3 linked regions of the Homo sapiens genome follow. The protein of the gene in region 3 interacts with the protein of the main gene of each other region in a biochemical or structural test. Each region holds a gene or a part of one and is shown on either strand. Other genes may lie near its edges. The genes, in order: RPS6KA3, NOSTRIN and FGFR1.

Region 1 (3,652 bases), on a different chromosome or scaffold from region 3:
TGGATGAGGGGTGGTATCCTTCACTGATTTGTAGAATACAAAAGAAGTAGTTTTGAGAGGAGTGGTGGTTGCAGATTTGGACATTATAAATTAAGAGATGTATGTCCATCAGGCAACTGTCTATATGGTTATAGGTCTTAAAAGAGAAGTCTGGGGTGACACTTAAGAGTTGTCATCATCCATAGTAGCTAAAGCCATGAATTTGAATGAGATTATCTGAGCAGAGTGTAAGAGAGCCAAGGAAAGAATTCTGGAGAGCACCACTTAAAGAGAAAGCTTAGGGGAGGAGTAGCCATTAAAGGGGCTGTAGTAAGAGAAGTAGTTTGAAGTGAGTTCACCAAAAGCTCATTAACGTATAGATTTGATTAAAATTATAATTGAGTTTTGTTGTACCCCTGGACAGTTTTGCAACCTTTTATGCAATTTTAAGCACTTTTGCCTACTTTCAGAATTGCAAAAGGGAGGTTCCTAATTTTTTTTATTTTTATTTCCAGCTCTGTTCAATTGCGTATCCCTGTTCTTAGCTGTTAATAACTAAAAGTAAGAAACCATAAATGTCTCATAGCAGAGGAGTACCTGGAACAACATCACGCTAATTCCCAAGATCTAGTTAACCACCAGATTCTGTCAGTTCTTTATCCTAAATACCTCCATTTCTCTCTCTCTCTCTCTCTTTTTTTTTTTTTTTTTTTTTTTGAGATAGAGTCTTAGTGTGTTGCCCAGGCTAGAGTTGCAGTGGTACAATCACAGCTCACTGCAACCTCCAACTTCTGGACTCTAGCTATCCTCCCACCTCAGCCTCCTGAACAGCCGGGACTACAGGCATGCACCACCACTCCCAGCTAATTTTTAAATTTTTTGTAGAGATGGAGTCCCACTACGTTGCCCAGGCTGGTCTCGAACTCCTGGGGTCAAGTGAGCCTCCCACTTTGGCCTCCCAAATTTCTCCCACGCCCAGCCCAATTTTCTCCATTACATACACCTCCCTGAAGCTGTCATCTTTCACCAGTCCATTTTCCTCCACACTCAGTGAATGTGATCTTTTTACTTAACCGCATCACTCCCTAACTTTAAACACTTTATTACCATCAAATAAGTCCACGTTTGCAAATATGGCTTACAGGGACTTTCCTGATCTGGTCCCTTCTCATCTCTCCCACTTTATCCACTGCCACATTCTCCTTCACGGTAAATTTATGCTGTAGCCGCATTGTACTGCTGCCAGTTCCTTAACTGTGTCGTCTTCTCTCCCACCTAAGAGCGTTCCTCCAAACTCACTCTCCATTCTCTCTACTCTACCTGAGGCAGTGTTTCCCCCTTCCTTTCTCTAATCTAGCTCCTGCTTATCCTACAGGTCTTATCTTCCTCTTAAAAAGTCCCTTTTAAGCCACCTCACACAGTACAGTCAGGTATCTCTGTGTCCCTCCAGCTGCACCTGGTGTTTGTTCATCCTGTCAAAGAACTTACTTGCTTTGTGATTATTGATTCTTTATCTCTCCTTCACTGAACTGAAAACTTCATGAAGTCAGAGTTCATTTTGTCTTTTTTTTTTTTTTTTTTGAGACAGGGTCTCGCTCTGTTGCCCAGACTAGAGTACAGTGGTTCAATCACGGCTCACTGCAGCCTTGACTTCCTGGGCTCAAATGATCTCTGCCTCAGCCTCCCAAATAGCTGGGACCTCAGGCATATGCCACCACACTCAGCTTTAAAAAAAAAAAAAATTGTAGATACAGGACCTCACAATGTTGCCTAGACTTCATTTCTGTGTTGTTCATTGCTAACTACCCAGTGCCTAGCAGAATGCCTGGCCTTTACTGGATACTTAACAAATGTATTTTGAATGAAAAATTTAAAAAATGGTGGCTTTTATAAATGACAGTGGTGTTATTTTGAAGAGTGTAAAACCATGTAGTGATTATATGCATCTACATTGCATGCATAGGAATGGCATTTAGATAGATATGCAGTGCTAACAGTGACTGTCTCTGGAAGAGTGGGATTATGGAACTGTTCCTCATGTGCTTTCACATTCCAGTATTTTCTGATTATTCTCTAATGCCCATGGGTTGCTTTTGAAGTAGGAAAAAAAATACTATAGTCTTTTCAGGGGGCATTTAGAGCCCTCCAATTAAATTCCTGTTATTGGACATTCATGTTTTTTTTTTTCAGTATTACCAGCAGCACAAAAAAAGTCTTAAGTAACTGAATATTACTTAAAAATAAACTGGCCAAGCACAGTGGTTCACATCTGTAATCCTAGCACCTTGAGAGGCTGAAGCGGGAGTAACACTTGCATCCAGGAGGTGGAGACCAGCCTGGGCAACATGATGAAACCCCATCTCTACTAAAAACATAAAAGTTAGCCAGGCATGGTGGCGCACACCTGTAGTCCCAGCTCTTTGGGAGGCTGAGGTGGGAGGATCACTTGAGGCCAGGAGACAGAGGTTGCAGTGAGCCAAGATCATGCCACTGCACTCCAGCCTGGGCGACAGAATGAGACCCTGTTTCAATAAATAAATAAACCTACAAAAATGTAGGAAACTCAGAAAATCTGAAGGAAAAAAGAGCCAGAGTACTTAAAGATATATAAAATGTGCTAAATTGACCCCTTGTGATGCACCAAATTACAGTTATTTAGCAGGGAAAAAGCGGAGACTGATTTTTTTTCCCCCAAATTACCATGTTGACCAAAGGGCTGCTACCAGAAAAAGCAGTATCACAGAAGCTAAGGAAGAATGTTCATTAGTATCAAGAGCCATAGAAAAAGAAGCAAAACAAAAGGTTTAAGCTTGTTTTATTATTCCCATTACAGGACCTGGTGTCAAAGATGCTTCATGTAGACCCTCATCAGAGACTGACTGCTGCTCTTGTGCTCAGACATCCTTGGATCGTCCACTGGGACCAACTGCCACAATACCAACTAAACAGACAGGATGCACCACATCTAGTAAAGGTGAGCAGCCCCATACAGTCACTGTTTTCCACAGGTCCTCCAGGAGAGACTTCAAGAAGCCCTGTCCATGCCCCCAGCACCTTTCTCTTTCATCCTGCATCCAGTTCTGTTGTGGGATTCTCTTACAGTGGGTGACTTCGAAAAGCTCAAGGCATATCAATATATTAGTAATAAAACTAGTTTAAGAGCGACTTTTGAATTCCTCTCAGTCTACATGAGTAGGTATTCACTATCAATAAGGACAGATTAAGCTTATGGATTTCCCAACTTAAAGAGCATGCCTTCCTGTCTCTTTAGTGCCTTTATGCATTAAAGGAATGCAAAGGGAAAAAATGTTGAATAGTCCTGAGAAAAGTGAGGACTGCCTGTTATGAGCCTATCTTTGTTCTCTCTCATACATAATTTTAACCTCCATGTTGGCCTCTACAGTTTTGGTTAAGTCAGTGGATTTGACCAGTGTGGTTATTTTCATTATGAACCAAATAAAATCTATGTACATTTGCATATGAAAAAACTCTTCATTTTGTATTTGTGTACGTGTGACTATCCATTGTCACTTTTGTTACTACCTTTATTTCCTTTGTTCAGGGTGCCATGGCAGCTACATATTCTGCTTTGAACCGTAATCAGTCACCAGTTTTGGAACCAGTAGGCCGCTCTACTCTTGCTCAGCGGAGAGGTATTAAAAAAATCACCTCA
Region 2 (3,652 bases), on a different chromosome or scaffold from region 3:
AATGCCAAGGGGAACAGAATAAGGTTGTCGAAGAAAGGTTTCTGCCCCTTCTTACCAGGCATACCAGAAATGGAGAGATCATCTCTACTCACTGTGGTCAGGGTTTGGCCAAAAAGAGAAATATGTTGGCTGTACTGGTTTAAGTTATTGCATAAAAGTTGAATTCTTTCCTTCTCCAGCTCCAGAATGCTCTGAAAAGAATGAAAATTGGGGTAAGATCAGCCAGTTGTTATGCAAAATGGAAGTCACTCATCAAACACTGACACACCTGAAGACAGACTGAACAAAGTCTCATGATTAGCCTCTTGACTATGTCATATCCAAACCATAGTGGAGGGAGATTTCCAGGAAGGAATGTGTCTTGGTATCTTAAATCACTCACACACTTTCCCCAGGCTCTTTTGACCCAAAAGGCATATAGGCAGATGCTGTGGGTTACCTAAGTTTATGAGGAAGGGGGAGAAAAGAAGAAAAGGAAGCATTTGAGACACAATCATGGATTCCAGAGAATTCCAGAGAATTTCAGTAGAGATGGGGTTTCACCATGTTGGGCAGGCTGGCCTTGAACTCCTGACCTCAGATGGTCCACCTGTCTTGGCCTCCCAAAGTGCTAGGATTACAGGCATGAGCCACCGCGCCTAGCCAGGCCTTGTTTTTACAAAAAAAAAAAAAAAAAAATTGGGAAGAATTCCAGAGGGTGAAGCCCAGGAAAGCCCATATCCATGTCTTGGAAATGCATTGAGACACCCAATAGTTTTAGAATTGTTTATAGTACATTCAAGGCGTTCTGCTAGTCTGCAGGGAAGAGAATGACAGGCCACAAATTCTCTGTTTAAGGAGGTTATTTGACAAGAGAAGAATCCCAAAGTCTGACCAATTTATAATTCTGCCTAAAATTAGGCCTGGGAGTCAGAGTCCGCTGTTTGCAGGTAGACACATAGCCTCTTTATTTTGTGTGAGATGACAGAAGTTTCATTATTAGACTTATGACTTTTAGGTAGGAAGGGTAAATAAGAAAGTGAGGGGAATCACATTTGCTTTGTTAGCTATTAACATTTTAGAGGCCGGGCACAGTGGCTCATGCCTATAATCCCAGCACGTTGGGAGGCCAGGGTGGGAGGATCACCTGAGGTCAGGAGTTTGAGACCAGCCCAGCCAACATGGTGAAACCTTATCTCTACTAAAAATACAAAAATTAGCCAGGCATGGTGGCACACGCCTGTAATCCCAGCTACTCAGGAGGTTGAGGCAGAATTGCCTGAACCCAGGAGGTGAAGTTTGCAGTGAGCCGAGATCATGCTACTGCACTCCAGCCTGGGTGACAAAAGTGAAACTGTCTCAAAAAAAAAAAAAAAATGAGAAAATGTTACTTATTGGACCCATGCCAACTGAGTTGCTGACTGGTGGTTTTACAGGGGGCAGAAAGCTTTAGCAACTAAGCATTCTTAGAGAAGGCTGGCTCAGGCAGAGTATTCAGGGAGACTCCAAGGCCATGTGGGGGCAGTGTAAGGCTGCTGGGTATGTGCCCAGGGGACTTTGGGCTTTGATGGAGATGGCAGGTGTCCAAGACAAAATTCTTCCCATCTTTTTTTTTTTTTTTTTTTGTAAAAACAAGGCCTGGCTAGGTGCGGTGGCTCATGCCTATAATCCCAGCATTTTGGGAGGCCGAGACGGGTGAACTACCTGAGGTCAGGAGTTCAAGGCCAGCCTGCCCAACGTGGCAAAACCCCGTCTCTACTAAAAATACAAAAATTAGCCAGGCCTGGTGGCGGGCGCCTGTCGTCCCAGCTACTCAGGAGGCTGAGGCAGGAGAATCGCTTGGACCTGGGAGGTGGTGGTTGCAGTGAGCTGAGATCATGCCACTGCACTCCAGCCTGTGCAAAAGAGTGAGATTCCATCTCAAAAAAAAGAAAAGAAGAAAGAGAAAGAAAGAAAGAAAAAATACAAGGCCTGGGCATTCATCCTTTTATCCAGGGAAGTCCAGCTCAGTTGCTCTCATACCCACCATCCCAACTCCTGCATCCCACAAAGAGCACCAGCAATCATCTTTCATGAACAAGGCTTTGGAGAAGTTGGTGGGTAACACGACCATAGGGAAGAAGAAAGATGGGTATGTCTCAAGGCCCTTGGCAGTGCAAGAGAGGTGAGAATGGAGAGTCACAAAGATCACTGGGTTCTCCTTGCTCACCTCTTGAAATTCCTACAGGAGCCCATTGGCCTGATTCAGTATGGTATTCCTCTATATCCCTGTGTTGTTAATTCATCTATGGTATATGGTGATTAAAATTATTTTAAATTTCTTTATACTTTTAATTATGGTAAAATTTACATAATATGACATGCCATTTTATCCACCTTAGGCATCCATTTCAGTGTCATTAAGTGCATTCACATTATTATGCAAACACCACCATAATTCATCTCTAAAACTTTTTTCATCTTGCAAAAGTAAACCGTACCCATGAAACAACGACTTCTCATTTCCTACGCTCTGCATCCCCTGGCAACCACCATTCTACTTTCTGTCTCTACAAATTTAACTACTCTTGATACCTCTTACAAGAGGAATCATACACTACTTGTTCTTTTGCATCTGGCTATTTCACTTAGCATAATGTCTGCAAGGTTCATCCATGTTGTAGCATGTGCCAGAATTCCCTTCCTTTTTGGCTGAATAATATTCCATGGTATGCATATACCACATTTTGTTTTTTGGTATATAGTCATTTGAACACTGCTTGCAAATGAAAGTAGTAAAAGGCTCAGGCAGTAACTATGAACATCTGTGCCAATCACATGCAACTTTAGCTTTTGTATCAAGTGTCCTGACATTTGGATTGGAAGCCTGGAGCCACGCCCCCATGGCAATCTTCTTAGTTGCCTCTGAAGCTGCCCAATTTTCATATGTCAATGGGAGTCAAATGGATTGGTTTACGCTGGCAGTCCCCTGAGGCTTTCACAAAATTGCAGGCACCAGTCATTTGAATGTGGCCGTCTGCCCTTCTGTCTCCCAGATAAAGGATTAAAGACACAGAATAGCCTATCAAATGTTTTGCTTCTTAAAAGGCAGAATCGATATGCCTCATAACAAATACGTAAAACAAATTCTGCTCAGTTGTTTGGATCTCCTATGTGACAATCTTCAAAAAGAAGAAGTCCTTACCCTATAGAAAAAGATCTAGAAATCAGCTCTTCTGTTTTAGCCTATGAGCAAGAGAGAAGAGAAAATAAAAGCCAGGTTTTAGAACATATTGCATCCCTAGTGGGCAGGTGTTTCTTTACTTTGACAAGTGCTGAACCACTAGCATCAATCTGAGACTAGAATAACCAGTGTTCCTTAGTGACATGGTAATGCTTAACAGATTTTAATTACATTTCAGGGAAATCATTAAAATGATCTATGTTTGCTCATAAGAAGAGGAGGAAATAAATTCCACTGTGCAAAGGAGAGATCCATATCTAATGATTTTTTGCTTTTTATTATCTTGTTCTTTTTATATAAAATAGGTGGTAGAGAAGCAAGATACTCTGGAGGACCTCAAACTGTCCTCTTGAGGTTCCACAATAGTATATATGAACAAAGTGTGGTCAAGGAGTTATCCAGAAAGATTCAGATTTCAGCAGATTTAGAGCCTGTCTGGGGCCCAAGCAT
Region 3 (3,652 bases):
AAAGTATCTCATCAATAATTTCTATATTGATTACATGTTCAAATGATAATATTTTGGAAATATAGTTACATTAAATAAAATCTAAACAAACAAGTTAATTAAAAAACAAATATTGGCCAGGCGCGGTGGCTCACGCCTGTAATCCCAGCACTTTGGGAGGCTGAGGTGGGCAAATCACGAGGTCAAGAGGTCGACACCATCCTGGCCAACATGGTGAAACCCCGTCTCTACTAAAAGTACAAAAATTAGCTGCGTGCAGTGGCGCGCGCCTGTAGTCCCAGCTACTCAGGAGGCTGAGGCAGGAGAATTGCTTGAACCCGGGAGGCAGAGGTTGCAGTGAGCCGAGATTGCGCCACTGCACTCCAGCCTGGCAACAAAGTGAGACTCCGTCTCAAAAAAAAAAATTTTTTTTACCTATTTCTTTCTTTTAACTTAATTTCCAATGTGGCTTCTAGAAAATCTGAACATATACATAACTCATGTTATAATGTTATATTTCTTTCTTCCTTTCTTTTTTTCTTTGAGATGGAGTCTTGCTCTGTCACTCAGGCTGGAGTTGCAGTGGCGCAATCTTGGCTCAACCACCGCCTCCCGGGTTCAAACGATTCTCCTGCCTCCCAAGTAGCTGGGATTACAGACATGAGCCACCAAGCCCGGCTAATTTTTTTATTTTTAGTAGAAATAGGGTTTCACCATGTTGGCCAGGCTGGTCTTGAACTCCTGACCTCAGGTGATCCACCTGCCTTGGCCTCCCAAAGGGCTGGGATTACAGGCATGAGCCACTGTGCCTGGCTTTTTTTTTTTTTTTTTTTTTAAACAGGGTCTTCCTCTGTCCCCCAGGCTGGAATGCAGTGGTGCAATCACAGCTTATTGCAGCCTCTGCCTCCTAGGCTCAAGTGATCCTCCCACCTCAGCCTCCTGAATAGCCGGGACTACCAGTAAGCACGAGCATACTCATCTAATTTGTGTATTTTTTGGTAGACACAGGGTCTCACCATGTTGTCCAGGCTCATCTCCATCTCATGGGCTCAAGCAATCCGCCTGCCTTGGCCTCCCAAAGTGCTGGGATTACAGGCATGAGCCACTGTGACCAGCTGCTCATGTTCTATTTCTATAGGGCGCCACAGCTCGAAGCAACATCCATGCCTCTGTGCAAGACTTTCTTCATGCCATTCCTTGTTCTGCAACAGGCCAGCCCTTCCCTTTTCTCTGAACCCCACCTTAAGAAGCTGTTTCTTCCATAAGACTTTCTTGGGCCTTCTAGCTGGAGAATTTCATTCCTCCAAATTTGCAAACCACATTACTAGCCCCTCTCACATAGCACTTAGGTCATATTATATGATTGTTATTTATGTTCTTCATTCTCTTCTCTCCCCACGAAACTGCAGGCTCCTTCAGAACAGGGTCTGTGCCTCCCTAACCTTTGCTAACACCCTCGGCACCTAGCATGTACACAGGAGATGCCAACATGTTTGTTAACTGGATGAATGAGTAAGTGAATGAAGGAAAAAAAAGGGCTGATGAAAAGAAACTGACAGAGATACTCCTCCAGAAAAAGAGGCTGAGAATATCAGAGAAAAGCAATTAGGTAGTACCCCTTGTTAACCAGCCAAACTCTAGTCCAAAGAACCCTGAGAAAATTTCTGGACAACTTGGTTCTTCAGAATTGAGGAAGTAACACCAAAACATTAATCCCTTCAGATGAGAATAAGACTTATTTCTTCCCCAAAGTGACCATTCTCTACTCACATGTTGAGAGGGCAGGGGGCAAGTACTTAATAAACATATGGAGAAAGTTACTCAGCTCAGCTTGCTAAATTTTAGTTGGTCCAATGGAAATGCTAATTTTTTGAGTCTCTTTAAAAAAAAAAAGTGTCTAAATGTCCTTGGAAGTAAGAGACATATAAAAAATTAGCAATAAGTGGTCAGGCACAATGGCTCACACCTGTAATCCCAGCATTTTGGGAGGCCGAGGCCAGCGGATTGCTTGAGGTCAGGAGTTCAAGCCCAGCCTGGCCAACATGGTGAAACACCATCTCTATTAAAAACACAAAAAATTAGCCGGACATGGTGGCGCATGCTTGCAATCCCAGCTACTAGGGAGGCTGGGGCAGGAGAATCGCTTCAACCGGAAGGCGGAGGTTGCAGTGACCTGAGATAGCGCCACAGCACTCCAGCCTGGGCGACAGAGCGAGACTATCTCAAAAAAAAAAAAAAAAAAAAAAAGCAACAAGTGAAACACGAACTGCTGCACATAATCTAGAAAACCTTGCTCTTGAAGACAGGATGTACTATGAGTGGAACCCCACCAAATTCTTGGGATAGTTCATCCATGTGAGGGCTATTAAATGGGGGAGAGGGCCCTAAACATGGTTTCTTTCATTGCAGGGGAGAGATAAATGGTGGCGAGGAGAGAATTTCTGTTTAAAGTAGATGCAACCTTAGGAGGAAAAACAAATATCCTAGCCCAAGTCTGACATTTCATCCTCTCTGGAAACACCAGAATCTTCTCTAAAGCTCTGCATCTGGGCTCCCACTAGTCCCTGGTGCGTTCAGGCCTTTTACAAAGCTCTGGGGAAGACAAATGTAAGACACAAATTTCCCAGGAGGAAATTAAACTATCAAGTGATGTGAGGCCCTTTCAGAATAAGACATTTGAATCAATTCTAACTCCTTTTCCTCCAGCAGCAACAGGCTCAAACTTTGCTAGGATGTTCTATAACTAACAGCCATTTTGACGAAAGACACTTTAGAAACGAAGGCAAGAAAAAAGCCTTTGTAGAAGCCGGCTGCTAAACCCCCAAGTTCATACCAGCAAATCTCTCATTTTAGGAGTCTTGTTTCAGGTCAATACTGAAAACAAAGAGCACACCACTAAAAGCAAAACCCATGGATTTTCCTTGGTCTCTAAGGCTTGAATCTGCCTACCCAGTGTTCAATTCAATTTTCTTGCCCTCTGGAGTCCACCAGGAATAAAGCTAGCCCAGCCTGAGGGATGCACCGATGTATCTAATCCTCTGCCCCTAGGGAGTGGGGGACGCTTCTCCATTTCTTCCTGAGCCTTTGCTTCCCTTGCTATCAAAGGGCCACCTAATGGAACTGTCTAACACCCTCCATGGCCAGAGGCCAAGGAAAAGAAGCACCCTAAGATTGTTCAAGTGGTGCCCACTCTGGCCTGAATTCCCATTGGGAAAAATACCTCGAAAATGAGCATTTCTGCAGGCATGTTTGGAAAAGCAGGCAGTGAAGTACGCAGTCCAAGTGGCTCTCAATCTGGATGAACCTCATTAAAAAGCTGACACTCAGCTATGACTAAGAGTAAATGCAACAGATATTTCAAGCAGCTCGTCACTGATGCAGTTCATAACCCTCCCAGCTGGAGTCAGGCCCCAGCAGCCTCCCGGTCCCCAAACACCCTGCACTCGGAGGGTCGGGGCAGCCCCGGAGCTTCTCCTAACCCACTGGGGGTAGGATATGTAAACAAGTCATTAGGGAGGCAGGCCATCGGCAAAGACGGCCGGCAATAGCAGAGGCTGCTGAACCTCGGTCACCGAGAGGAAGGTGGATGACCCGGGCGTGGGGGTGATTACCCAGACCAAGGCGCGTCCCACGGGGCCCTGCTACTTCGCTTTTAAACAAGCCTCAGGGAGGA

What was found.
Region 1: the proteins of FGFR1 (region 3) and RPS6KA3 form a complex in vitro, tested with the Homo sapiens proteins (one study listed by BioGRID).
Region 2: the proteins of FGFR1 (region 3) and NOSTRIN form a complex in vitro, tested with the Homo sapiens proteins (one study listed by IntAct).

Annotation. Positions count from the first base shown.
Region 1 is NC_000023.11:20,155,410-20,159,061, reverse strand, and holds part of RPS6KA3 (ribosomal protein S6 kinase alpha-3), read left to right. Parts: intron 1-2,812; coding exon 2,813-2,953; intron 2,954-3,541; coding exon 3,542-3,652. UniProt on the Homo sapiens protein: Serine/threonine-protein kinase that acts downstream of ERK (MAPK1/ERK2 and MAPK3/ERK1) signaling and mediates mitogenic and stress-induced activation of the transcription factors CREB1, ETV1/ER81 and NR4A1/NUR77, regulates translation through RPS6 and EIF4B phosphorylation, and mediates cellular proliferation, survival, and differentiation by modulating mTOR signaling and repressing pro-apoptotic function of BAD and DAPK1.
Region 2 is NC_000002.12:168,847,623-168,851,274, reverse strand, and holds part of NOSTRIN (nostrin), read right to left. Parts: intron 440-3,652; coding exon of another isoform or gene 269-439; intron 192-268; coding exon 93-191; intron 1-92. UniProt on the Homo sapiens protein: Multivalent adapter protein which may decrease NOS3 activity by inducing its translocation away from the plasma membrane.
Region 3 is NC_000008.11:38,462,110-38,465,761, forward strand, and holds part of FGFR1 (fibroblast growth factor receptor 1 isoform 1 precursor), read right to left. Parts: intron 1-3,652. UniProt on the Homo sapiens protein: Tyrosine-protein kinase that acts as a cell-surface receptor for fibroblast growth factors and plays an essential role in the regulation of embryonic development, cell proliferation, differentiation and migration.